Homo sapiens: one gene and its partners. The protein of the gene in region 1 interacts with the protein of each later gene in a biochemical or structural test. Each region holds a gene or a part of one and is shown in the gene's direction. Other genes may lie near its edges. The genes, in order: NYAP2, NCKAP1, WASF1 and CYFIP1.

Region 1 (7,027 bases):
AAAATTCAGTGGGAAAAGACTTAAATGTAGGAATTTTATGGCTAAAATTATTGACTGCATTTTATATATCAGACTGCTAAATGCTTCATATGCAGTATATCAGGTAAATTTGATACCAGTTTGACGGGGCCAATGCCGCTATTAAACAGCTAAGGAAATGGCCCCAGGGATTCAGTAGCTAATGTTATACAGCTGCTAAATAATGGCTCTGGGATAGTCTATAACTCCATGATTCCAGTGCACAAATGTCCAGGCCTGTCTACTAGCCAATAATTTGTTTGGTGGAGATATTTACAAACATTGCATCAATTACTTCTGGAAAAATAACCCTCCTTGATTTAGATAATATTTTACACTTTGTGTTTTGTAATGGAATAACTAACCAACAGACAAGTAGATCTCACAACATTGCCTTCATTATATGAGAAAAAGCATACTTGTTTAAATTCAGGATTATGAAACTTGTTTTTATTTTTATAACATGAGATGTGTCAGGCTTAATCTATCTTGAGTGTTGGAGTCTTATTGCAACAAGACTCTTTCTTTAGCCCACATAACTTTCACTTCCAGCCAAATATTCCTATAGTGAAGTTAGCTTCTAACTCCTCAAGCCTCATTTAAATGCTCAGTCTGAAGCAGGAGAATGACCTATTTTCACAGGCATTCCTTATTTCTGGGGTCTTCCATTTGTCGTGATGCCTTCTCTTTCCCTGCTTCTTTGGTTTCTGAATGCCGGAGGAATTGTTCCCAAGTATGTCAGTTCAGGTCTCCCAGGAAGCAGACACCATGACAGAGTTAGAAGTCTGGGAGGTTTATTGGGAAGAATGCCTGTGAGAGATAAAGAAGGAGGAAGCAGAAGAGGTAGGACAAGTCTGAGATCACAATGCAGGTCTAGCACCTGTAGAAGGAGAGGGGGAGGAAAAGCAATTGAATAGGAAGATCATCAGACTGTGATGCAGTGATGAGAAGGAAGGTCTTGACCAGTGCAACAGGGAAAGCCAGCCATAAAGGTTGCCTGAATCTGGGAAGAAGTAATCAGGTGTAATACCTCATTGTGCTCATCCATTGTCTAGGAGCTGCCCATGGACAACATAGCCTCAACTAAAATGCTGCACCAGATTTGGAAGACGGCAGCTGGCAGCTGACTGCTATCCTCAGAGGAGGTTCTCTGTTGAGGGACTTCTGAGCCACACACCTCCATGGCTGCCACAGTTCACTCCCTAGACTCAGCTGATGTCCTTCTCCTGCAGGCTTTGGGAACAGTTCTCTCCTAGCTCTCTTCTGGCTCTTCTTGAGGGGAAACTTGGAAGGGTGCAGTTAGTGAGATAAACTATAGCCCTCATCACCGCAGTTTGTATGGGAGCTACGACTGGTTCTCGTCATCTCCCTCCTCCATCATTCATCCTAAATTCACCCCACCTTCAGGAAACACTTCCACTTGTCTCAGTGGCTTACTTGGTGGAGAGACTAATCTCTCATTCGTGAGAAGTTGGAGTCCTTAGTAACCATAACCTTTCTGGGCCAGGGTTGCTGCGTATGACCTTTCAAAGTCACATTTGGCCAAGACAGTATCAAGAGGCACCCAAGTGGATAACCTTGGTTTCACACATACTTCTCTCTGCCCCATTGCATAAAATCAGCCTTACCTCCTGCTGACCAGGATCAGGGATATCTTCCACAATGGCAATGACACTTCTGTTTTGTTTGTTTCTTTGTTTTAGAGCTAGGGTCTTTCTTTGTTGCCCAGGCTGGAGTGGTGCAGTGGCATGATCATAGCCCACTGCAGCCCTGAACTCCTGGGCTCAAGCAAACCTCCCACCTCAGTCTCCAGAGTGTCTGGGAAACAGGTGCACACCACCATGATCAGCTTCTTGTTGCCCGTTACCCACTACACAAGGGGTGTTCAAATTGCTGAAGGGGCAGCTATAAGTTGTTGTTCAATGGGACACTTCCTGTGTCTTCTAGAAAGAGTGTGCCTCTTTGGGGACCTGGACCTTTTAACTCTGTAGAGTCCAGAGTTATAGGGATCGGAAACATAAAGTGCTCAATGGTTCATTGTTGTCTCGTCAATTAACTTCATTCCTCATGGCAAGTGCTCTCTTAAGAGATCTCAGTTGCATACCATCACAGCTGCCAGGTATTTGATCTCCTACCTGTACAAGGAATATGCATCCCCATATATTGCCATATGACTTGCAGTATTTATTGGAGGAGAATAAGTCCCCAGGCCACTGACCTCAAGCTTGACCATAAGATTGGTTTTAGTCAGTGGAGAGTGATGGAAAGATTATAAGCCACATCTGAGCAGAAGCCAGGAGAGACATATAAGTTAGTTGGTGTTTTTCCTTCTCTGCCAGGAGAAAAAGTCCCAATGGGGCTACATCCTGGGGTGAAGAATATATGTGAAACAGAGCCACAGTTGATGTGCATTCATACAAGCAAGAAACAAACCTATATCATTAAAAAACATTAGGGATTGGGGATTGTTTGTTACTGCAGGATAACCTAATAAGATTTGGCTAATAGGTTGTATGTTTTCTCATTCGTGATATTTTGCTTAGTATTTACCTCTTCCTGATTGCTTCTAATTGATATATCTACTCATTAATGGCCCTAACTATTGTTCTTAATATTTCTGGGGGGGTTCTGGATTAGCTACATCAGAAACATCTGGATATAGTTTTAAAAACACAAATTCATCTTCTACACCCACAGAGATTCTGATTCAACAGGTATGATTCAATCATTGCCCTTCATATGGAGTCTGGGAATCTGTATATTTAAAAAACTCCACATGTTCCTAGCAAATTCAGAAACTAGTTGTATGCTGCATTTCACAATCTTCAATTTGTTTTGGGCTAATAACCTTTCTGGGTCTCTTGAACCTAGATGTGCCATCACCTTTACTGTTTGTCCCTAGCCTTGACTTGAACAATGGTCTTCGCATCCAAATTTGTTTTTGTCCTATTTCTTCATCTTGTATTTACAGCCTGGTCAAACTAAACTTGCAGTGGTACCTGCTAGTGCTTGAAGCATGCATTGAATTTCTCTTGAAAGAAATGTTAATGTGTTTGTGTGTGTGTGTGTGTGTGTGTGTGTAAAAGGCATATATGAACCAAAGCAGATAGAGTTAGATTAAGTTGTTGTATGCTGTTAAAAAAGATAATTCTGAAATGAAGCAGACTAAATTGTCAGTCCGGGAAAAAGTTCAGGCTCCATTTAGGTCAAAAGTAACTGAGAAATTGCTGATAGAATTATTTTTAGTAACTCATAAATGCCCATGTGCATTAACACATGCATAAATTTCCCCAGCTGGCTGTGTTACCAGAAATGGGATGACTGGCTAAATAAATCCTTAAAGCACCTTTTGTGCTGTGATGAAACAGAAATGAACAAAAGACATTAGGATGAAAAATAATTGAAAGCAAAGTTAGATTACATCAAGTATATCATCTATGAGAAAGATCAAAACCACAACCATCACAAACTGAAGACAGACCTTCCTATACCAAGACTGCCCCTCACGTCCACTATCCCATCCTTTCTCATATTCTTCATTTTTCACAAACCACTCTGTTTGGATAAGCTTCTAATGTATGTCTTAATTGCCGTTCTTTAAAACACACACACACACACACACACACACACACACACACACACACACACAGAGAGAGAGAGAGAGAGAGGATAAAACACATAAAAACACTGCACTGACTTAGGATACTTTCGGCTATGATGTCAACACTGCCCCTTAGCCATCACTTGGACTCCATTCATGCTTCTGGATACTGTTGATTTTTAGTGCACTGAAATTCCAGCCACCTTTATTGCAAAGATGGTACTCCGTGCTTAGTGTCTGAGTATCAGTTGAAAATATTCAGAAAAAAATACATATAAAATATTTTGGGTTGAGTGGCAAGTTATCATTGGTGTTAAAGGTCAGAATCAAGAATCTAATGTTCTTGTTAAATTCTTCTTGTCTGTATCCCCAAAGGACATGTAATTGTCATAAGTCCCCAGTTGAAGGAGGAAAAGAAAATCTCATTTTTCATTATTGTTCCTACTGGAATGTTAAAATCATAACAAACATTGTAACGATATGAAAGATATAAAATTCCATCATATTATGAAGGCAGAGCCAGCCAAAATTAGTTTTACTAAATGAAGATCTGAATAAACTTACATGTCTGGGAAGGTAGACTCAGCAAGCTTCCAAACTTCATATACTCAGAGGTACTTCTTACCATTCAAACATATCTAAGAAAATTAGTCAAAAATTTTGTAATGGTATTTTTAAAAAATTGTGTTTACTCTTGGTGAATGAACTTCATAGATAAAAAGAAACTCTAGAAAAATCTTCCTTTTAAAAGTTTACATTCACATTTGTGTCCCTTCTTTTCATAAAGGAGTCACTATTACTTAATAGCATAGACAGAGGCCCAAGAGTCATTTCCTAAATAATTGCTTGAGTTCCAAAATTAGAGGGGATTTCTTATATTTTAATATTTTTGTTCAAACTTTCCTATGTAAAACTTAAGAACCTTAAATTTGGAAACTTTGCATACACTGAATATTTATGAAGTATTAGAATCATCTCAGGATCAAACGATATTTAAGCTGCACTTCTTTACTCAATGTTGCTGTTTTATTTTGTGTGTCTGATTTCTTAGTAGGACTGTTTCTAATGTAACTGAAGATTCTGGAGGATTGAGAGTGGTTGGCAATACCTTCACCAATTTAAGCAAATATTTTCTCCTCCCTCCCTCCTTTCTTCCTCCTTCCTTCCTCCTTCCCTCCCTGCCTTTCCTCCTTTCTTCTTCTCTTCTCTTTTTCCTTCCCTCCTTCCTTCCTTCTTCCCTCCTTCCTTTCCTTTCCTGCCTTCCCCTTTCCTTTCCCTTCCTCTCCTTTGCTTTTTACTTTTTCTCCTTCCTTCCTTCCTCCCTCCCTTCCTCCCATCTTTCTTTGCTTGTCTTGCTTTGCTTGTCTTGCTTTGCTTTTTCTTTTTTCTTTTCTTTCTTTCTCTTCCTTCCTTTTTTCGTTTTTCTTTCTTCTTTCTTTCTCTTTTTCTCTTTTTCCCTCTTTCCCTCCCTCCCTCTCTTTCTTTTCTTTCTTTCTCTCTCTCTCTCTCTCTTTCTTTCTTTCTTTCTTCCTTCCTTCCTTCCTTCCTTCCTTCCTTCCTTCCTTCCTTCCTTTCCTTTCCTTTCTTTTTCTTTCTTTCTTTCGTAACAGAACATTTATTATTGTTTTTTGTTTCATTTTCTCCAATATATTAAGCAGATAAAAGCAGGAATGGTTTTGATGAAGTGGACAAGAGTCTCAAGTGCTGACCACTAGGACTGAATTGCACGTCAAAATGAATCTGAGTCATAGTCATGGAATTCTTGTTTACATTTTAAGCCACTGATAAGATTTACCTAAAGTAAATATAAAGTGATTGAAGATAAGTGTTCTATGCAGTATTTTTTCTTTCCTTTGGGGAAAACAAAATTTAACACAAAAGTTAGAATGCTTTCATGCTACTTGAGTTTGTTTTAAAAGGCAGCATTTCACCGGACTAAAATGAAGATTTGAAATTTTCCCTATTAGTAATATTCTCACATGTATGATCTTGTATATCCTGGCTCCTTTTGTCTTCATGGTTTTTGGTCTGCTTTCTTTTACAGCATAGGTGGAGAAGTAGGGCGAGGCCACGAAGGAAGTTACGTGGGCAAACATTTCCGCATGGGATTCATGACAATGCCTGCTCCTCAGGACAGACTTCCCCATCCTTGCTCCAGTGGCTTTTCTGTGAGATCACAGTCCCTGCACTCGGTTGGGGGCACAGACGATGACAGCAGCTGTGGCTCACGGAGACAACCACCACCCAAACCCAAGAGGGACCCCAGCACCAAGCTGAGCACCTCATCAGAGACAGTCAGCAGCACTGCAGCCAGTAAGAGCGGGAAAACCCCTGAGAGGACTGAAGGTAAAACACGCCATGTCCATGTCACCTAGAAATCTCTTTCAGATAGTATGTTCAGGTCAGCATGCCCAGGGGCAAGTGCCTTCTTCACTGGGCCACATAATCCTGCCTCTCACCCTGAAGTCCCAGAAAAGAAGAATTGAGGGGAAGGTTATTTATTGATGTGTTGTCAAATTTCCAGAAGAATGTATTTCTGATAGTTCAGAAAGGGTAGGCAATATATGAGTTTTTTAATCCTTTAAAGCTTCAAATTATTCAAAAATTATTCTGCCCAGAAATATATCTAAAAGTTATATTTTCTTATACTATTTATACAATTAAAGGTATTATTATTTGATTATCAAGGGGACATTTTAATTCAGGAAAATATCAAGAAAAAGCTTATAATCATTTTTAATGTTTTGGTGAATTTCCTTCCAATGAATATGAATTTATGTATTTATGTGTGTATGTGTGTGCATACTATAATCTTAAACTCTCCTTAATATCTCCAATTTTTACCTTTATCTGCCTGTGTTTTTTCTCAGCTATGAAACATACAAGTCAAATATATCCCAGCCTCCTTGCTGGTCTATGAATATAAATTAGGTCATATTAACACTAGATCTCACCAGCTCTTTAGGCCTTACTGAATTTAGTAGAGTCTCAGCTTCCCTGAGTTACTCCTGAGAATTCCATGGTGGGAAAGTAGCCTTAAGTGTGCCTTGACACAAGCTATCTTGGTCATTTGGGGCTGCTATAACAAAACACCATAGCCTGGGTGGCATATAAGCAACAGCAATTTATTTCTCACAGTTCTGGAGGCTGGAAGCCTGAGAGCTCTGTTGGGGCCCACTTCCTGGTTGCAGACTGCCGACTTCTCCTTGTATCCTCAAAGGGCAGAAAGGCCTCCCTGGCCTCTTCGTAGGAGGATGCTAATCCTATTCCTGAAAGCACTGCTCTCCTTCCCTTTCTACCTCCACATACAATCATTATGGGATTAAGTTTTCAACATTCTAATTTGGGGAGCACAAACATTCAGCTCATTGCACAGGCACATTGAGATCTTTACATAGCAAATGTGGA
Region 2 (7,027 bases), about 43 Mb from region 1:
TAGAAAATTACCTCTTCATGGCCAGGCATGGTGGCTCACGCTTGTAATCCCAGCACTTTGGGAGGCCGAGGCAGGTGGATCTCCTGAGGTCAGGAGTTCGAGACCAGCCTGGCCAACATGGCGAAACCCCATCTCTACTAAAAATATACAAATAAAATTAGCTGGGTGTGGTGGCAGTCGACTGTAGTCCCAGCAGCTCAGGAGGCTGAGGCAGGAGAACCCAGGAGGCAGAGGTTGCAGTGAGCTGAGATTGTGCCATTGCATTCCAGCCTGGGCAACAAGAGTGAAACTCCTTCTCAAAAGAAAAGAAAAGAAAAGAAAATGTCTCCTCATGCTGTGGCTATTTTAAAAAATTGTCGCTGTCTTTTTGCCTGCAGTTTACAATCCAACCTCTAGCTTGGCATTCAAGGCCCTTCCTAATAGTTGAAACCTCTGTACTTTACCTTACACGTTATGCTCCACCACATAGTAGTTCTAACTACAGCTCTGAACCATCATATCTTTACACAGTTTTTTTCCAAAGGCCATTTAATCCTTCCAGTGAAATATTCTTTTTCATTCCTTGCTTGCCTGGTATGTTTTTACTTGTCTTTTTAATAGTAATTTAAATAAGCGTCTATGAATTTACTCTATGACGTGTTTCTTCACACAAGATTTACCCAAGATCTACCCGTTTCTGTTTTCACCAAGCTATGTGCATTACCCAAGCTAGCTAAGTAAGCTCTGTATCTCACTTATATTTCTGTCTTTTAATATTGTTGTGATATTTGCAACACAGCCTGGATTCAGCTACTGTTTGCTTGAATAGTTAGTATGCTTTCAGAGTAATTGGTGTAATGTAAGATTTCATTCTTTTCTAAATTTAGTTGCTACCCAAGCATTGTGCCAAAACTATCAGTCAAGCAGTGAATAAGAAATCAAAAAAGCAGACTGGTAAGAAAGGGGAACCTGAAAGGGAGAAACCAGGTGTTGAGAGCATGAGGAAAAACAGGCTGGTTGTGACCAAGTAAGTATCCACTTATATTATACCTTTTTGCTCCAGGTAAAATATTTATTTCATTTTTTTCTATTGACATTAGTACTGAGGAAATGCTAATAATTGTATATTCTTCATTTTCCAGCCATTTTAAAAAATATTTCTGAGCTTAATTAACCTGTTAGTTGCTTATTTCATCTCAAAATACAGATTTTGGCCTTTAGAAGAAAATATATGTAATAGTTGATATTTGTCTTTTTATACTAAGTACTGAAGGCCAATTATATGTTTAAAAAATTTTGTGTGTTACATTATAAGCAATCTGTAATTTTTAATTTATTTAAAGTTAGATAGTGGAGACTTTATTTTGGCATGTTTTTGATATATTAGAACATACCCAATGTCATTATTATAAAACAGAAATAACAGACCAGGTAGCATTCAGGGATCTTTGCTTGCTTCATTGTTTGGAGGGGAGGTGTAGGTGGGTAATAATTCGGTAAATATTTTTTGTTTAAAGTATAGTTCCTACTTTCTTGCTAAATTGAGCAAGCCATTGCCCTTTTATAGACAACTTTCCTTCTCTCATAACAGAAAGTACTTCAGGAATTGGGCGTGATTATCTTTATGAGTGCAGAATAAGCTCTACCTTTGTATATTAAGTCAGTATATTCATTACTACCTAAAGGTAGAAACAAATGACGCCATCTTTAGAATATTGCTCTTATGTGTTAGTTATAACCTTAAAGATTTTGAACTTTCTCAGTTTAGGAGAATAAAAAGTCGAATTCTCTAAGCATTATCTCCAAATAAGGTTGATATATTTATAAAATTAATTTTGTATTGCCTGTGATGACATGTGAACATTTTAACTGTTTATTAATTTTTTTCAGCCTTGATAAATTGCACACTGCACTTTCTGAGTTATGCTTCTCTATAAATTATGTACCAAACATGGTGGTATGGGAACATACCTTTACCCCACGAGAATATTTGACTTCTCATCTGGAAATACGCTTTACCAAGTAAGAAAGAATATTGACTGTTTTTGTTTGTTGACTCAGTAATGAGTTTGTTATTTAATTATACAGTGTTTTATAAGGAAAAGCATTAGTAGAACTGGATTAGTGTTAAGAATAATGAACCGGGCCGGGCGTGGTGGCTCACGCCTATAATCCCAGCACTTTGGGAGGCCGAGGTGGGCAGATCACGAGGTCAGGAGATCGAGACCATCCTGGCTAACACAGTGAAACCCCGTCTCTACTAAAAATACAAAAAATTAGCTGGGCGTGGTGGTGGGCACCTGTAGTCCCAGCTACTCGGGAGGCTGAGGCAAGATAATGGCGTGAACCCGGGAGACACACTTGCAGTGAGCCAAGATCATGCCACTGCACTCCAGCCTGGGTGACAGAACAAGACTCTGTCTCAAGAATAATGAACTGGGAAATGCAAAGAATAGTGAACTGAAAATTACTGAAGATACCCAGATTCTTTTCTCATACCTATTAGTATTAACTAGTAACACCAGGCAAACCAGTTAATATCTCTGAGTCATAGCTTCCTTATATACAAAGTGAGAATATTGGAGCAAATCAATGTATTTCATCTTGCAGGTGGCAACCCAGTAGGTTCATGAAATCAGTTTATTAGGTTGTAGTCAAAGTTTAGAGAAAAGTGGGAGGGAAAGAAAGGACAAGAGGAAGAAAAAATAGGAAAAAAAACCCAGTACACTGTGTGCATTAAATATATATATTGCTTCGTGAAATGTTTCAGTTACATGTATGCATGTGTATTGACTTGCAGTGTTAAGATGCGTGTCATGCAGTAGGTCACAGTAAAATGTTTGAAGACCTGAGGACTAGATGAACCCTTACATGTTTTCTGAATTCACATGTTGCTGTTAAATAAGCCAATAGAATTCTAGATTCTTGAATTCTCAATTCTAATTAGAATTTCCTGTTATATATGAATATATATTTTATGTATGTATATGAAATAGTGCATTGATAAGTCAGAAACCTTTCAACTTTATATATATTGTTTTAACCTTTTTCTGAAGTTACATCCTTATTTATTAATATTTATTCATGAAAATTTTTATTTATTTGACAATTTTTTTCTTCAAAGCCTTGAAGCAATTTATAAAACAAAATTTTGCCAAAAGGTTTTCAAAGTTTCTGTAGTCATTAACAGGTGGTGTTTGTATTTGCACTATATGCTTAACAATGTGTTAAGTACTCTAGGTAATAATGAGATAAAGATAGAACTGTAGCTGGTGAGATGACTAAAAGAATTAGAGAACAGAATATGACAGTATATAAAGTGGCACTAAGTTGAGTGTTAAATTATCAGTTGACTTGAGAAGAGTCTGGTGATGAACTGTCTTTTGTTCTCCTTAGTAAGTCAGGCATCCTGACAGTAAAACCCAGAATGCCCTAGAACTTAGACCAAAGGGGCATTGTGCCTTGTGGTGTTTATTATTCTCAAGTGGGTTAGAGGTGGGACATTGGTGGGTGGAAGGGAGAGTTCAGTGTACAGCTCCCTTGTTTTCCTTGTAAACAGTCTGCTTTGTTAATCCACAGAGAAGCAGTTTTTTTTTTAACCAAACATCTACTTAGTGATTAGGATCAAGGCAAGGGGAACAGCTTGTTTACCTTGGAAAGATTTTTTATTTTATTTAATTTATTTATTTATTTATTTTGAGACGGAGTTTTGTTCTTTCGTCCAGGCTGGAGTGCAGTGGCACAATCTCAGCTCACTGCAACCTCCATCTCCCAAGTTCAAGCAATTCTCCTGCCTCAGCCTCCCGAGTAGCTGGGACTACAGGCGTGTGCCACTGTGCCTGGTTAATTTTTGTATTTTTAGTAGAGACGGGGTTTCGCCATATTGGCCAGCCAGATAGCTTGTGAATATTAGTGGGTTGGTTTTTGTCAATCAACTGAGCACAGTCTTAGGACTTAGGGATTATACACTAGGATAGCAGTTTTCATCTTGCGTTGGCTCTTCTTGGCCTGTTTCTAGTGATGGGATTTGTCGGTTGTCTTTTAAGGATTCATCCTTACAAATACAAGTCTAAGATCTTTACAGATCTAATGCTCAGGGAGTTTTAAAGAAAGTGAAATAGGGGTGGTCAGTGTAGGATAAGATCATTTAGGGAAGTATTTTCAAAATTTGTGTTTCCTTTTTAGTCGTATACAGTTTCTTGAGATATAAACAGAACTGTTTTATATGCTATGAGTGATTAAAGAAAATAAAGTTGTTTGTTGCCTTATTTTGTTTGACTGTCATACAGTTTGTTTAGAGGCAGCACTAAGTCAGGCAGATCTGCGGTCAAATCCTAGTCATAACCACTTCCCAACAAAACCTTATCAATTTATGTGAGTCCTGAGCTTTATTTTTTTCCTCTGGGAGATATAGTGATAAGTACATTGTAGGTGTTTATTAAATGTGAGGATTGTAGGTAATTTATATAAAGCCTCAAAAACTACTGGCACCTAACAGTGTCAAATAAATTCAAGCTGTAGACTAAATAGTTCACTGTCCTTGCTACAAACAACTTACCATGTTAAAGCAATTTGTAAAACCCTCTTTATACTTAAATCACTTTTGTTACTGGTATACTTAGAATGTTTTTAATCATTTTATTCACATTTCGTTGTAGTTTTTAAGTTTTCTTTTTTCTTTTTTTTTTAAGACAGTCTCACTCTGTTGCCCAGGCTGGAGTGCAGTGGTGCAATCTCAGCTCACTGCAACCTCTGCCTGCTGGGTTCAAGCGATTCTCCTGTCTCAACCTCCCAAGTAGCCAGGATTACAGGCATGTGCCAGGCCCAGCTAATTTTTGTATTTTTAGTGGAGACAAGGATTCACCATGTTGGCCAGGATGGTCTCGAACTCCTGACTTCAAGTCATCTGCCCGCCTCGTCCTCCCAAAATGCTGGGATTACAATAGGCGTGAACCACCATGCCCGGCCTTCATTCTTTTTTTACGCTGTTTCCTGGGAAGATAATGACAGTAATTTTACAGCTTTGTAATAAATTATTTTTAAAGTTAATTTTATTGCTTGTTTAATATTAGATAACAGTAGGTTGAGTGGTTTATTTTACATGAATGGAAAAGTCAGAGGCTTTTCTTATTCTTCTATCCCTTCTTCCCAGGTCAATTGTTGGGATGACTATGTATAATCAAGCCACACAGGAAATTGCAAAACCTTCAGAACTTCTAACAAGTGTAAGAGCATACATGACCGTACTCCAGTCAATAGAAAACTATGTGCAGATTGATATTACAAGAGTATTTAATAATGTGCTTCTTCAACAAACACAACATTTAGACAGTCATGGAGAGCCAACCATTACAAGTCTATACACAAATTGGTAAGGAATGCATTTAGAAATTTGTAGTAGCGGAAAATTTGTAATGAAGTACTTAGGAAAATTAATTTTTTTGTGAATAAGTACTTATTCATATTATCAGTCAACTTAAAATTATATGCAGGAATGTATATCATGATACATTCTGAATTAAGCAGTTTCTTCCGGTTATAAGTTTACGTTTCTCCTTAGGTATTTGGAAACTTTGTTACGACAAGTCAGCAATGGCCATATAGCATATTTTCCTGCAATGAAAGCGTTTGTGAACTTACCTACAGAAAATGAATTAACATTCAATGCAGAGGAATATTCTGACATATCAGGTGAATAGTACTATACCACAGTTTAGAGAATGAAGAACACTTAATTCTTTTGCTAGTGTCTTGATTCTTTAGACTTTTGATTCTGTTGTGACTATTTCATTCAATTATATGCGTAACTGCATATTGTATCTTAGAATTACTTTTGCATTTTGTATTCTCTCTTTCACTCTAGAGACTTTTATCAGGATTTTACATTAGTTTTTATAATGAGATGTTGTATTGTGTTAATGTTCATTTTCTTAAAGTATTTGCTCTGTCGGAAGTATAAAATTAAGTATGTTTTCTTTCAGAAATGAGGTCATTATCAGAACTACTAGGCCCATATGGTATGAAGTTTCTAAGTGAAAGCCTTATGTGGCATATTTCATCACAAGTTGCTGAACTTAAGGTAATATAGTCTTTATTAATTTTAGCTTTTAAACATTAATTCCTGAAAAACATTTCAGGGATATGAGCAACAAGCCTACAATGTTAATTATTTTAATCCAACATGAAAGTACTAATATGAAAATGAAAATTAAATAGCTAGCAAGGCCTTTTTATGGCATCTTAGTTTAGTTTTCTCTATTTTGTAGGTGAGAAAATGGAAAGCGAAAATAGGTGAATTGACTTGGTAAAGGGGACAGAACCTCAGAGTCTTTGGCTTGTGGTCAGGCCTTCATAGTATTGAATCATGATGTTTTCTTTGAAATACCAGCTTCAAAATTCCAGCCAAAGTTAACAATTTGTTCACACTTGCGGTTTGAATGTATTTGCTTTCCATAGATTATAATACAAAAATTACTGGGCTTATTGCTTTTTCTTAGGTAATCTTTTAAATTATCTTATGCCCTCTAAGTTGAATGAAAAATGCCTTCAGAATGCTTAATGTTTCAGTAAAGATGTAAAGGAACTGAAGCAACAACATTTTAAATACCTTTTTATTAGCCTTTTAGAAATATCCTACAGCTACGGTGATTTATATTAAACGAATCTGTATATATAATAACTATGTAGTTTTTGAAAGAATTTGAACTTGGGCCACCAAAACTTTTGAACTTACAAGCAGAATAGAGAAATCATGTTTTAAAATAAACATTTTCTTCGTAAAAGCTTTTTGGTGGTTACTTGAGTCTTGATATTTTAGTTTTTGTTTGTTTGTTTTTTTTTTTTTTTTGAGATGGAGTCTCACTGTGTTGCCCAGGCTGCAGTACAGTGGCACAATCTCAACTCACTGCAACTTCCACCTCCGAAGTAGCTGGGACTACAGGCACGCACCACCAAGCCTGGCTTATTTTTGTATTTTTAGTAGAGACGGTGTTTCACCGTGTTGGCCAGGCTGGTCTCGAACTCCTGACCTCAAGAGATCCACCCACCT
Region 3 (7,027 bases), on another chromosome or scaffold:
GTCTCATTCTGTGTTGGCTGAAATTTAATATTGTTAATTTATTTTTGATTTCCTACAGGTGAACTGGCACAAAGGTTAATCTCAAGATGCCGCTAGTGAAAAGAAACATCGATCCTAGGCACTTGTGCCACACAGCACTGCCTAGAGGCATTAAGAATGAACTGGAATGTGTAACCAATATTTCCTTGGCAAATATAATTAGACAACTAAGTAGCCTAAGTAAGTATATATCAATTAAAAATATACTCACAAACCAGAATGTTATGCTTTAGCGTATTAAGAAGTTGTGCTTCTGATTAATTTGGGAGTATGATTTGGTGAGAAGAGTACAAAATTATCCTGAAAAATATAGTCACATGAGTATAATTATTGAGTTTTACAAGAACCTCTTCTGCATGATGTTTCTTCTGGGAAAGGAAAATACGGACAGAATCTCTAGGAACAGAAACACATGATGAATGAAAATTATTGAGATTGTTTTAAAAATATATAATCTGCGAAAGGACCAGAGTTGTACTTTTCCTTGGTTATTATCACTATTTACTCTGTTTAGAGGCCTCAACTATTTGTGTTTTCAAACACTAGTATCCCTCTCTTTATATATATATTTAATTAGTTTAGGGAAATATTTTTATATTAGCAAAGATCTAAGGTGAGAGGTATGGGGTCATTATTAGTCAGAGGGGTAGGCTAGTCAAGTGGGATGTCTAAGAGACATTAGGATATAAGTCAGGAATCTGATATGCAGCATTGTGTGAAAACAGCAAATGAACTTGGCCTCTGGCAGACAGAAGTCAAGCAGGTTGGCCAGAGAATAAAGGCCAGTGAAAGAGGCAGATTAGGGAGAAGGAGACAGGCAATATGTTCTCATTGCAGATTTACAGAATAGAGCAACTTGGTTAAGGAATTAAACAAATTATTTTCTATTCTAAGTTTATTTAGAAAATTTAAAAAATCTGGTCTGTCTTTTGCATTGAAGGATTAGCTTTTTCATAAGACATTGATATTTCATTTTAAAGGTGAAACAAGGTGTTCTTGGCAGAGATAATATCCACCAAGTGGTCCTAGATTTATCTCATCAGCCATATAAATTCTCCTGATAAGCAGGCTTGGCTTTTCTTTTCTTTTCCTTTTAACTTTTGTCCTTTCTTTTATAATTGAGTACTTAGCACAAGAGGTTGTTAATCTAATTTGTTTCCGGTAAGAAAGTTTAGGCATACCTGTAGCGAGAGCAACATAAAAAGTTACATTTGAATATTCTCTGTGAGAGTACTAAATTTTTGCATTGCCTGTGAAATAGTAAGAATAAATAAAAGGCTATTTTATTTGAATTTTAAGTATATTCCTTGTTCCATTCAGTGGTCATTTTTTTCAGGTTAGTGAATCACTAAAATATTGTATTGTTTACTTGAGGCTAATAAAAAAAGTGTTAGAGTTCCCAGTTTAAATATGATTAACTATATTGTTTAAAGATATTTTGCAGATTTTTTGTGACCTAGCACGGATTGAATCAAGTATAACATGATGTCATATAAAATTTGTTTTATATATGTTATGTACATACATAAGTATATAAGCATGCTAATATTAAAATACATGTTAAGAACATAGAAATGGCATTAGTAATTTTGTATAACATATTTCTTAAAATGAATTGTGGATCCAGTACAGGCATCTTATTTTAGGTATATACCCAATATAGAATTTAGAACTAATATTGTGATTAAGGGTGATAATTTGCAGTACTAACCCATTTGTTACAAAACTTAAAGATGAAAATTTAAGGAATTTTTAAGTCTATATAGTCCATATAAGCAACATCTATCAGCAGGCACATGGTTATGCTGTAGCGAAACTCTGAAAATTATAAATACCTTGTAACAATATAACTAAATTAGGTGTTGGGTGCTTCACATTTAGAATCAGAGACCTGGAAGGCATTGTTTAAGCAGTTTGTAGAGATTCAAAAACAAAGAGAAAACCCATAAAATATTCTAGCAAGGTGTGACAATAGCTTACTGCCCTGAAATTAACTTCTCTGGCAGCTTTCCCACTTGACATAGTTGAGAACCTGGAATTAAATTTAAAAGGCCTCTAGATAGCCAGAATAAATAAACTCATGCACTAAAGACCATGCACATAAAATAACCAATTGATCCCTCTCTCAAAACCTGTTTACTTTTACCTTGATAGTTCAAACAGATTTGATGATGTGGTTTCCAAACAGTTATGCTTCAGAGGATAAAAGGAGGAAGCATGGGAGGAGATACTAGAAGGAGGCATCACTGAACCCAACCAAAAGGAGGTAGTTCACAGGAAAGGACAAAGTGATGTAAGGGAAGATGCAACATAAAAACTGGAAAGAAGCCATTTAATGTAAAGCAAATATCCTTATACATTTCAAGGCTGTTTTCTGGCCTAGGATAATATTTGATTTTCATAATTCATGCCCGTGAGTCCCTAAGAAAAAATTAAATTATGTTTAATTTTATATTCCATTTAAGAAGAGGGAAGCTTAGAATACATTTCACAAGTTTCCATCGAAAATAGTTAAAATAACAATTGATGTATTAGATAATAAAATCTGAATTACTTAGAAAACTTGGCTATCCAAAATGTTTCTAGATAATGGAGATTTTCACTTTGGTGCTATTATTAGTACTGAAAGTGCTTGAGAATATAGCAATGAAAGTAAACTGCAGGGATCCACATGGCTCAGGGCTGGATATCTTCCTGACCTTTTCCTCACAAAAATGTACTTCCTTTTTTTATTTTTTTGAAACAGAGTCTTGCTCTGTCACCCAGGCTGGAGTGCAGTGGTGCGATCTTGGCTCACTACAAACTCCACCTCCCAGGTTCAAGCAATTCTTGTACCTCAGCCACCAAAGCCGCTGGGATTACAGGCGAGTGCCATCATGCCTGGCTAATTTTTGTATTATTTTTAGTAGAAATGGGGTTTTGCCATGTTGGCCAGGCTGGCCTTGAACTTCTGGCCTCAAGTGATCCACCCGCCTCGGCCTCCCAAAGTGCTGGGATTACAGGTGTGAGCCACCATACCCAGCCAGTACATCTGTTTTTTGTGAGATTTTTCCTAGTAGAACATAATTCTGTTTTGTATTAGGTAATTACCACAAACCTATAATTCACTTTATATCAATTTCCTCTTTCTCATTTTATTGCTTTCTTAATGATGCAAGGTTTTTTACTCCTTAGCTGAGCTAGGTCCAGGTTCTTGTCTCACGATGAGGAAGAATTAGGCACACAGATACTCTAAGAGTGAATGGAGTAGAATTTATTAAGTGAAAGGAAAGCTCTCAGCCAAGAGAGGGGTCCTGAAAGCAGGTTCCAGGTTGCCCCGTCACAGTTGAATACAAGGGCATATATATATATATATATATATATATATATATATAGAGAGAGAGAGAGAGAGAGAGAGAGAGAGAGAGAGAGAGGAGAGAGAGGAGAGAGAGGAGAGAGAGAGAGAGAGAGAGAGAGACGCTGATGGGGCTGGGTTCCCTATTTGTATGAGGCACAGATTACTGGTGGCTTCACCACATTTCCCTAGTGCACATGCAGGCCCTTAGTCTGCTGTGGGCATGTTTAAGCAAGCCCCCTGTGCAAGTTCCCTTATCTGCACAAAGCATCTGGTGTAAGCCCTTGTGGGGTGGGTCAGAGGTTCTCTGGGGACCCTTCCCTTACTGTCTGCCTAAAGCAAGCTAGCTAACTCCTTTCATTAACAACCACTGGGATTCTGAATACCTAAGGGATCTCTTCCCCTGGCTTTTCTCTTATGGAATATAGTCAGTTCTTATTGCCAAGATTAGTCTTTTCCATCTCTGTATCTACACCTAGCATTTGTATCCCTACCAATTGTTGAATAAATGAGTAACTTTATACCTGCTTTTTCTTCCATTTGGGATGCTTCCCTTATCTGCCAGAGAAACTGTCTCTGGAAGTATCTTGATCACCAAATAACTTTTGACACCTGAAAGTGAGGTGCTTCTATCTCTGCTGTGTTGCTCTTACCTTATATTAAGAGCTGCCTGTTATTGGGCTCCTCTGTATGAGGTGCACTTCAAGGCTCTTTTCTTGCTTCTTTTAGAGACAGATGTTTTTATTCCTATTTTACAGATAAGGAAATTGATACCAAGGTCTCACAGTGAATAGAACAAATATTAGGACTTATCTATTAAATTGCTTTAAATATTTGCTTAAATGTCTGGTTCTCCCTCTGCTCAAAATTCAGTAATGGCAGGGATCTTCTTCAAGTTATTTTGGCTTACTCTTTTCAGTAATAAGAACTTACACAACTAGAGGAATACAGTGATTTTAGATTTATGATTTTTTTTTTTCAGAAGTTGTAACAAGAGGGTGTAAAAGATCTCCTAAATTTCTGAATCTATATCTTGGGCATCCCTGGGACAGATAATCTTCTAGGTCTTTGATGAATCTTGGGTTCTGCTACTTGGCCTAAAATTTATTTCTAGCTAATATAAATGCTGATTATATATAAATGCTGATTATATATAAATGCTACAGTCTACATATAAATGCTTTCAGATTGACAGGCATATTATTTGCATATACCTTTACATCATAATCTTCTCTAACCCTCATCAGGTGGACAGATATAGATAAAGCAAGTAATTTCCATTTTAGACACAAATCATTTAACAGAAAGTAGTAGAACAAGGTTTAAAAGCAGGCTTCCCAGGGTATCTCTTTTTTTTTCCCCACTTTGTCATGGCTGGGTGACTTTAGATAGGGTTTAAAGTTTAAAATACAGTTGGCCCTTGAACAGTGTAGGGGTAAGGGGCACAGATCCTCAGTGAAGCCAGAAATTTGCATATAACTTTTGACTCCCCCAAAACTTAACTGCCTATAGCCTACTATTGACCAGAAGCCTTACCGAGAACATAAACTGTTGCTTAACATGTATATTTTATGTTGTATGTGTAGTAGTATACTGTATTCCTACAATAAGGTAAGCTAGAGAAAAGAATATGTTATTAAGAAAACCATAAGAAAAAATATACTTACTGTTCATTAATTGGAAGTGGATCATCATAAAAGTCTTCATCCTCGTTATCTTCACATTGAGCAGACCAAAGAGGAGAAGGAAAAGGAGGAGTTTGTCTTGCTGTCTCAGGAGTAGCAGAGGCAGAGAGGTGGAGGAGGTAGAAGTAGTAGAGGTGGGCACACTGGTGTAACTTTACAAAAACACATCTTGATTTCTGACTTTTTTGCTTCTTCATTTCTCTAAAAATGTTTTTATATGGTACCAATCCTCCTTTTATTTGCTTTAGTTTTGGTACTGTATCATAGAAGGGTTCACGTTGTAAAATAAATCAAAAGTAGTCTTGAATAATTGGAACGCTTTTGCCAGATTCTCTAATGTCAATTTGTTTTCTGACACCACTTCTTCTATGTCTTCTTTTTTTTTTTTTTGGATTCCATTTTTTAAAATCGGAGATCTGCTTCTTTACTTTCTTTCTTATTTATTATGATACTTTAAGTTCTATGGTACATGTGCATAGTGTGCAGGTTTGTTACATAGGTATACATGTGCCATGGTGGTTTGCTGCACCCATCAACTCGTCATTTACATTAGGTATTTTTTCCTAATGCTATCCCTCCCCCAGCCCCCGACCCTCCGACAGACCCGGGTATGTGATGTTCCCCACCATGTGTCCATGTGTTCATGTTGTTCAATTCCCACCTAGGAGTGAGAACATCTGGTGTTTGGTTTTCCAACCTTGTGATAGTTTTTTTAGAATGATGGTTTCCAGCTTTATACATGTCCCTGCAAAGGACATGAACTCATCCTTTTTTATGGCTACATAGTATTCCATGGTGTATATGTACCACATTTTCTTAATCCAGTCTATCATTGATGGACATTTGGGTTGGTTCCAAGTCTTTACTATTGTAAATAGTGCCACAATAAACATACATGTGCATTTGTCTTTATAGTAGCATGATTTATAATCCTTTGGGTATGTACCCAGTAATGGGATCGCTGGATCAAATGGTATTTCTAGTTCTAGATCCTTGAGGAATTGCCACACTGTCTTCCACAATGGTTGAACTGACTTACACTCTCACCAATAGTGTAAAAGTGTTCCTATTTCTCCACATCCTCTCCAGCATCTGTTGTTTCCTGACTTTTTAATGATCACCATTCTAACTGGCATGAGATGGTATCTCCTTGTGGTTTTGATTTGCATTTCTCTGATGACCAGGGATGATGAGCATTTTTTCATATGTCTGTTGGCTGTGTAAATGTCTTCTTTTGGGAAGTGCCTGTTCATATCCTTTGTCCACTTTTTGATCGGGTTGTTTTTTTTCTTATAAATTTGTTTAAGTTCTTTGTAGATTCTGGATATTAAGCCTTTGTCAGATGGGTAGATTGCAAGGATTTTCTCCCATTCTGTAGGTTGCCTGTTCACTCTGATGGTAGTTGCTTTTGCTGTGCAGAGGCTCTTTAGTTTATTTAGATCCCATGTGTCTATTTTGGCTTTCTTGCCATTGCTTTTGGTGTTTTAGTCATGAAGTGTTTGCCCATGCCTATGTCCTGAATGGTATTGCCTAGGTTTTCTTCTAGGGTTTTTATGGTGTTAGGTCTTACATTTAAATCTTTAATCCATCTTGAGTTAATTTTTGTATACGGTGTAAAGAAGGGATCTAGTTTCAGCTTTCTTCATATGGCTAGCCAGTTTTCCCAGCACCATTTATTAAATAGGGAATCCTTTCCCCATTTCTTGTTTTTGTCAGGTTTGTCAAAGATCAGATGGTTGTAGATGTGTGGTGTTATTTCTGAGGGCTCTGTTCTGTTCCATTGGTCTATATCTCTGTTTTGGTACCAGTACCATGCTGTTTTGGTTACTGTAGCCTTGTAGTGTAGTTTGAAGTCATGTAGCGTGATGCCTCCAGCTTTGTTCTTTTGGCTTAGGATTGTCTTGGCTATGCAGGCTCTTTTTTTGTTCCATATGAACTTTAAAGTAGTTTTTTCCAATTCTGTGAAGAA
Region 4 (7,027 bases), on another chromosome or scaffold:
TCCTTCCTGGAAGACACGTTCCCATCTTGAGGGAGGATCCCAAGTTGGCACCTCCCCGCTTTAGGCTTAGGCGCATTGTGCCCGCCTTCCGGCCCGCCTGGTCCCCGCTTTAGGCTTAGGCACATTGTGCCCGCCCTCCGGCCTGCCTGGTCCCCGGGGGGAATCCGCGGCCCTCCCACTGTTGCTCTGTGCTCTGCTGAGCGTCATTTCTCCTGCTGTTTTCAAGATCTGTTTTCCTTTATCTTTAGTGTTCAGCAGTTTGACCGTGATGTGTCTGGGTGTGGATTTCTTGTTTGTCTTGTTTGGGATCCATAGAGCTTCTTGAATCTGTAGACAAAAGACTTTCTCCAAATTTAGGGTGTTTTCTGTCATTTTTTTCAGCTGTTTTTCATCACTGCTTGGTTTCCCCTTTTCCTTTTGCACTCTCATGGCACAGATGTTAGACCTTCTCTCTTGTCCTGAAGATCCCCAAAATTTTTTCAATCTTTTTTTCTCTCTGGTATTCAGATTAGAAAACTTAACATTGCTCTATCTTCAAGTTCACTGAATCTTTCCTGAGGTTTTTTTTTTTTTTTACATTTCAGTAGTGTGTCTTTTAGTTTTGAAATTTCCATTTGGTTCTTCTTTATATCTTGTTTTGTTTGCCTTTTGCTGATTTCCATTTTTTCATTCAGTTTGGGAGTGTTACAATCGTTAGAGCATTTCATAGCACAGTAGTTGCTTTAAAGTCGGGTGGATAATTGCAGCACCTGTGTTATTTTGGCATCTGTTGATTCTCTTTTCCTGTAGGAGCCCATACGTTCCTCGTTCTTTGTGTGCTGAGTAATCTGGGCTGTAAGTGGATGGTTGGATGTTATGATATGAGATCTGGGTCTTGTTAAAATCCTAGGAGGATGTTGATATTTTTATTTTAGAAAGCAAACACCCTGAGGAGACTTGGGCTGTGGTTCTGACTTGCCTTCAGTGGGTGGCAGCTCCATGTCAATTCTGGCTTCACAGCCTCCTGCACTGCCACTTGGACCTGCCCCCTGTGTGCCGCTGGTGGCTGTCTGGCTGTGGTCTCAGGGTTTGGGGTGTGAAGAGGATCAGATCCACACCCCTGCAGCTTGAGGATGGGCTTGAAGCTCATGAGCAATTTTGTCGGCTGGCTCTTCTGAGCTGCTTCCTCTCCACACTGCCACTGGGGCTTCCTGGGTCCCTGGAGAGCTTCCCTTCTCCACCCTCAGCCAGTGCAGTGGGACTGACTACCCGTTCCACTGTGCACCTCCATGCCTGCGCCAGTGCTGGAGGAGGGATTTGGGGCTCCTTCTGTTCAGTGTCTCCTCCAGGCCACCTGCTGCTCTTTCCTTCATAGAATGTGGCTCAGCTGCCCCTGGTCCCATCCCAGGGCAGAGCTCCTCCTGAGTACCCTTGAGACTGGAGCAGATTCAGCAGAAGGCAGATTGCCCCCTCTCCCTGGAGCTGGCTCTGAAGGTGTGTTTAGACGATGTCTGCCTTCATTTCTGCACCTCTGCTCCAGCTGCGGTGTGGCACTTTCTGTCCCCTGCGGCAGCCCCATACTCCTTGCAATCTCAGCCTGTCTGTGCAGCTAGACAGCTGGTGTTGGGCGGCAGGGCGCTCGTCTTTTCCATGTCAGGCCCTAGTGTGTTTGGAGGCACCACCTGGGAGGTGGCTGCATTTAGGGAGGCTCTGCTGGGCAGATGTGGCATTGGAGAGGTGCTGCCCCTCCAGCACTTTGAGGGGGTCGTCAGACCCTCGAGAGAGTCCTCAGCACCAGCAACTCAGGACGGCGGCCCCCATGGTGGGAAGGATGGCAGGAACCATGTGCCCCATACTGTGACCCTCCTGGAGGCCAGGAGAGCCTGTTCTCAGCGAGTGTGGAAGGATAAGCTGCACAGGGCCTCCCAGCCTGCTGGCCCACGTGCCCTGAGAGAGACACGCAACTCCCAAGGACTGATCATGCCCCTGTCAGCCATGTCCGGTGCCCTCGGGAGAGCGGGAAGGGGTTAGAGGCCTGGGTACCCAACCTCGAAGCTTGTTGGGTGTCCCCTCCTTCTCCTCACAGAACAGGGGTCCTTATGTGTTGTTCCAGCCCAGGATGGCGGCCCAGGTGACTCTGGAGGACGCGCTGTCCAACGTGGACCTCCTGGAGGAGCTGCCCCTGCCCGACCAGCAGCCCTGCATCGAGCCCCCGCCATCCTCGCTGCTCTACCAGGTGGGTGCCCAGCAGCTGCAGGGCGTACAGCCTGTGCTCCGACCCCACATGATGTTTTTCTCTTCCTTTCCTTCAGCCAAATTTCAACACTAACTTTGAAGACAGAAATGCATTTGTTACTGGCATCGCAAGATACATTGAACAAGCCACCGTCCACTCTAGCATGGTAATGTTGCGGTGTGTCTTTGTTTCTCTCTGCAGAGAAGGGCGTGTTTGAAGGACAGATGTATACTTTTTGGTATTATCCCAATAGACTATGCAGTGAGGAAAAAGAGAAGAAAATGAATGAAATGCCTTATATTTTTAAGACAGTCTTTGCTTTTCTTAGTGTAAAAACAATACATGCTGGTTCTGAAAATTCAATGTCTCTGGCCCAGAGAAAACCTTTGTCAGCGTTTCAAGGGTGCACCTGCCCTGTTAATGCTCATTCCCTCTCCAGATCTGCACCCACACACACCAGGTATGTGCCCATATGAGATTTAGATTTATAAATGAATTGCATTGTTATTATAGTTCTGCTTTTTTTTTGAGACAGAGTCTTGCTCTGCCACCCAGGCTGGAGTACAGTGGCGCGATCTTGGTTCACTGCAACCTCCGCCTCCCAGGTTCAAGCAGTTCTTGTGCCTCAGCCTCCCGAGTAGCTGGGACTACTGGCGCCCACCACTACGCCCAGCTAATTTGTGCATTTTTAGTAGAGACAGGGTTTCACCATGTTGGTCGGGCTGGTCTCGAATTCCTGACCTCAAGTGATCTGCCCACCTTAGCCTCCCAAAGTGCTGGGATTACAGGCATGAGCCACCACACCTAGCTAGTTCTGCATTTTAATGGTCTCATCAACAGGTTTTCTTTCTTTCTTTTTTTTTTTTGAGATGGTCTCACTCAGGTTGCCCAGGCTAGAGTGCAGTGGTGTGATTAGGGCTCACTGCAGCCTCAACCTCCCGGGTTCAAGCAATCCTCCCACCTCTGCCTCCTGAGTAGCTGGGACTACAGGCACACACCACCATGCCCATCTACTTTTTTGTGTTTTTTGTAGAGGCGAGGTCTCACCATGTTGCCCAGGTTGGTCTTGAATTCCTGGACTCAAGGAATCCGCCTGCCCAGCCTCCCAAAGTACTGGGATTACAGCCTGAGCCACTGCACCTGGACAAGAATATTTTCATGCCATGAAAATGTGCTAGAGAAAGCAATCCTTAATGGCTACGTAAACCATTTTGTAAATGTCCACAATTCAACTATTTTTGCGCATTGACTTCCTCTTTTATGTCGTGTAATAAAAAAATGCTGTAGGCTGGGCGCAGTGGCCCACGCCTGTAATCCCAGCATTTTGGGAGGCCAAAGTGGGCGGATCACCTAGGGTCAGGAGTTCGAGACCAGCCTGGCCAACATGGTGAAACCCTGTCTCTACAAAAAAAAAAAAATACAAAAATTAACCAGGCATGGTGGTGCGCACACCTGTAATCCCAGCTACTCAGGAGGCTGAGGCAAGAGAATTGCTTGAACCCGGGAGGCAGAGGTTGCAGTGAGCTGAGATCGTGCCACTGCACTCCAGCCTGGGGGACAGAGCAAGACTCGTCTCAAAAAAAAAAAAAAATACTGTGATGAACGTCTCACTAAATAAAGGCTAGATTTAAGAGCATCTATTTGATTTTTTCCAAAGGAAACGATGTTAAAGAGTGGAAAGCAAAAGCAGTTTTACAGCAGTGATGACAGTCCTCTTCCCATGGACTCTCTACCTAGATTTTAAGTGCTGTGGGCGTGCTCCTAACTTTTCCTCCTGCACACCCGGGGCTGGCAGCCCTGCCTCTAGTCCTCTCTGGGACCGGGAGGCCCTGTGAGCCAGTGAGGAGGCCATGGGGATCCTGTGTGTGCTCACACCGGGCAGGGCGTCTGCCCTGAGCCCTTCCTCTGTGTTCCTAACTGCAGGTCTCATGGCCAGCAGGTTGTTGAGGGCTGGGTGGAGCCAAGGTGTAACGCCTGTGGCACCCCTCAGAGATGCCTGCGTGTCACTGACACCCCTCTCGCCTGCAGAAGCCATGGGGTGTTTTGGGTGGTCATTGTGGCCCCCAGCGCCGCACCTCAGTGTCACTAGCTTCTGGCAGCCGTCTCTTGGCACACAGGCCACAGTGCTTAGGATAGTTTGTGGCGCTTTGTCTGGATTTTAGCAACTGGCATCTGCTTTTCATGCTAGTTCCCCCGCCTGCCTTTGATTTGCCCTGTGTTCCATTGCAGAACGAGATGCTGGAGGAGGGCCAAGAATATGCTGTCATGCTGTACACCTGGAGGAGCTGCTCCCGGGCCATCCCACAGGTGCCACGCTCGCCTGGCTCTTCCCCTCCAGCCACACCCTGCCAGGCCCCTGCCACACCACACCCCTGCCCCTGCCATGCCTGGCCCACTCTCCTCCCAGTTCTCACCCCACAGCAGGGCGGGATCACTAGCTCTAGAAGCCCAGCGGCTGCTTCTGGCTGGATCAAAGCCTCTTATGTCATCCTTGTTCCTTTATTCCCAGGTGAAATGTAACGAGCAGCCTAACAGAGTGGAAATCTACGAGAAAACCGTGGAGGTTCTGGAGCCTGAGGTCACAAAACTGATGAATTTCATGTACTTCCAGGTAAAATGGCAAATAATCTGGGGGGGGTGTAACACCGAGGGGTGGGTTGCTGACCCCTTCCTACCCATCACTGTCACTGTGAACACCCTGAACAGAGTGCCTGCAAATTAAAGCAACCAGTTTCTGAGACAAAAGGGACCAAGCCTTTGACAGTCTAAAGTTCCTCATGCCCTTTCGGAATCAACGCTCCTTTTGTGGTTCACTTCTCTTCTCTGAGAGTGATTTTATGTTTCCTTCATGGAGCCTGCTTTCTGTCAGTTTCAAGTACAATGCTTTGACTTTTTGCCAGTTTGTACTTTTTTTTTTTTTTTTTTTTTTTGAGACAGAGTCTTGCTTTGTCGCCCTGGCTAGAGTGCAATGGCATGATCTCGGCTCACTGCAACCTCTGCCTCCCAGGTTCAAGCGATTCTCCTGCCTCAGCTTCCTGAGTAGCTGGGATTACAGGTGCCCGCCACCACGCCCAGCTAATTTTTGTATTTTTAGTGGAGACAGGGTTTCACCATGTTGGCCAAGCTGGTTTTGAACTCCTGACCTCAGATGATCTGCCCATCTTGGCCTCCCAAAATGCTGAGATTACAGGTGTGAGCCACCACGCCTGGCCAATTTGTACTTTTGTTTTCGTCTGCTCTTTCAGGTATTTTCTTGCTGTTAGCCTCACCCTGACTGTCCATTCCTGGTGGTCCTCGCCCTGGCCTTGGTTAGGCAAGAAGTAGCCACATGGAAGGGGCTTGCTGCTTTTTAAAGAAGTATTTTGGAAACATCCAGATTTTTTATGATGATGTCCTTCAGCAAAGGGAGGAGATGGAACTAACTGGGAGATGAATTTTTGTTTTACCTTGAAAGTTACCAAGAGGAAAAAAATCTCTCCCAGTTTTCACTTCTGAAAGTTAGAACATCTGAATTTTACAGGCGTTTTATTGGAGCATTTTGCTCAGTAATTTTGCTGGAATAATCAGCAAGATTTTGTTACTTTAGTGATGTAGTTGGTAAAGTGCAAGTCAAGTAATGATGGTGCAGAGCAGGCAGTGGGAGCTGCTTTCAGGAAGGGGTCTGGTTGCCCACATTGTAAACACTTCGGCCTGGAGCCTCACTGGGCAGATCGTTTCTCATCGAGGAGCAGTGACTGCAGGTGCTTGAAGGAGGGACATGGGCTTGGCTCCTCACTGACCTGCAGCTTTCTGCCCTCCTGCTTCCTCTGCACAGAGAAATGCCATTGAGCGTTTCTGCGGGGAAGTGAGGCGCCTGTGCCATGCCGAGAGGAGGAAGGACTTCGTGTCAGAAGCCTACCTGATCACACTGGGCAAATTCATCAACATGTTCGCTGTGCTGGACGAGCTGAAGAACATGAAGTGCAGTGTGAAGAACGACCACTCAGCGTACAAGAGGTGAGCACCCACCTCGCGCACTGCGGGCCCTCCCGAGAGCACCCAGCTCAGTGGCCTGCCTTGTGCACAGCAGGTGTGCGTCTTTGTTTGCTGAAGTCGTCACTTCTGGTAGGCAGCAGCTACGTCTCAGTGTCAGGGCTGTGTGAGCACCTGCTTCGAGGGATAAGGTGAGGGGAGCCAGCAGATAAGTGCATATCGTGGCTTTGCACAGCTAGAGCAGGCTCTTCGTGCCCTGGCTGTCCTCAGATGTCACAGAGGACCTTCGAGCCCCTGGGAAGACAGACATGCACAAGATGTAGGCCTAGCTCACAGAGCACAGGCATCTGGCTCAGGGAGCATCTTGGCAAGGGGGCAGGTGGCCTCTGCAGCCTACCTTGGGCGTTGGGGCTGCAGTCCTCGGTGCCGGTCACTCGCCAGCGGGGGTCCCCAGCACATGAGCACCATCCCAGCAATGTGCAGACGTGGCCCGTGCACAGTCACAGGGTGTCTCGTGGTCACACTGCGCTTCCAGATCCTCTCCCTGGTGGTTTTCTTTCTGGATGTAGAGAGCTTCTGGAGAAGCTAGCCTCTGGAGAGGCTGGCAAGACGAGCGGAAGAGGCAGGCATGGCCCAGTGTGTGCTTCTGGAGCAGTGTGGGGCAGTGGGTGGCCGATGGGCATTTGGTGACACTCGGCGCGCTGCCGACCGGCGTTCGGTGACACTTGGCACGCTGCCGACCGGCGTTTGGTGACACTTGGCACGCTGTCTCCTGATGCTCTTGCTCTGCTTCATCTGTGCTCAGTGCTTTTGAAGACATGTTTTGCTGGAATGAGATGC

What was found.
Region 2: the proteins of NYAP2 (region 1) and NCKAP1 form a complex in vitro, tested with the Homo sapiens proteins (one study listed by BioGRID).
Region 3: the proteins of NYAP2 (region 1) and WASF1 form a complex in vitro, tested with the Homo sapiens proteins (one study listed by BioGRID).
Region 4: the proteins of NYAP2 (region 1) and CYFIP1 form a complex in vitro, tested with the Homo sapiens proteins (one study listed by BioGRID).

The regions. Positions count from the first base shown.
Region 1 is NC_000002.12:225,507,708-225,514,734, forward strand, and holds part of NYAP2 (neuronal tyrosine-phosphorylated phosphoinositide-3-kinase adapter 2), read left to right. Parts: intron 1-5,663; coding exon 5,664-5,965; intron 5,966-7,027.
Region 2 is NC_000002.12:182,951,436-182,958,462, reverse strand, and holds part of NCKAP1 (nck-associated protein 1), read left to right. Parts: intron 1-866; coding exon 867-1,006; intron 1,007-1,869; coding exon 1,870-2,001; intron 2,002-5,131; coding exon 5,132-5,350; intron 5,351-5,539; coding exon 5,540-5,670; intron 5,671-5,960; coding exon 5,961-6,058; intron 6,059-7,027. UniProt on the Homo sapiens protein: Part of the WAVE complex that regulates lamellipodia formation. The WAVE complex regulates actin filament reorganization via its interaction with the Arp2/3 complex. Actin remodeling activity is regulated by RAC1.
Region 3 is NC_000006.12:110,120,661-110,127,687, reverse strand, and holds part of WASF1 (actin-binding protein WASF1), read left to right. Parts: intron 1-58; 5' UTR 59-86; coding exon 87-219; intron 220-7,027.
Region 4 is NC_000015.10:22,942,357-22,949,383, reverse strand, and holds part of CYFIP1 (cytoplasmic FMR1-interacting protein 1), read left to right. Parts: intron 1-1,354; exon of another isoform or gene 1,355-1,473; intron 1,474-2,065; exon of another isoform or gene 2,066-2,092; coding exon of another isoform or gene 2,093-2,098; coding exon 2,099-2,215; intron 2,216-2,291; coding exon 2,292-2,381; intron 2,382-4,444; coding exon 4,445-4,522; intron 4,523-4,724; coding exon 4,725-4,826; intron 4,827-6,029; coding exon 6,030-6,211; intron 6,212-7,027. UniProt on the Homo sapiens protein: Component of the CYFIP1-EIF4E-FMR1 complex which binds to the mRNA cap and mediates translational repression. In the CYFIP1-EIF4E-FMR1 complex this subunit is an adapter between EIF4E and FMR1.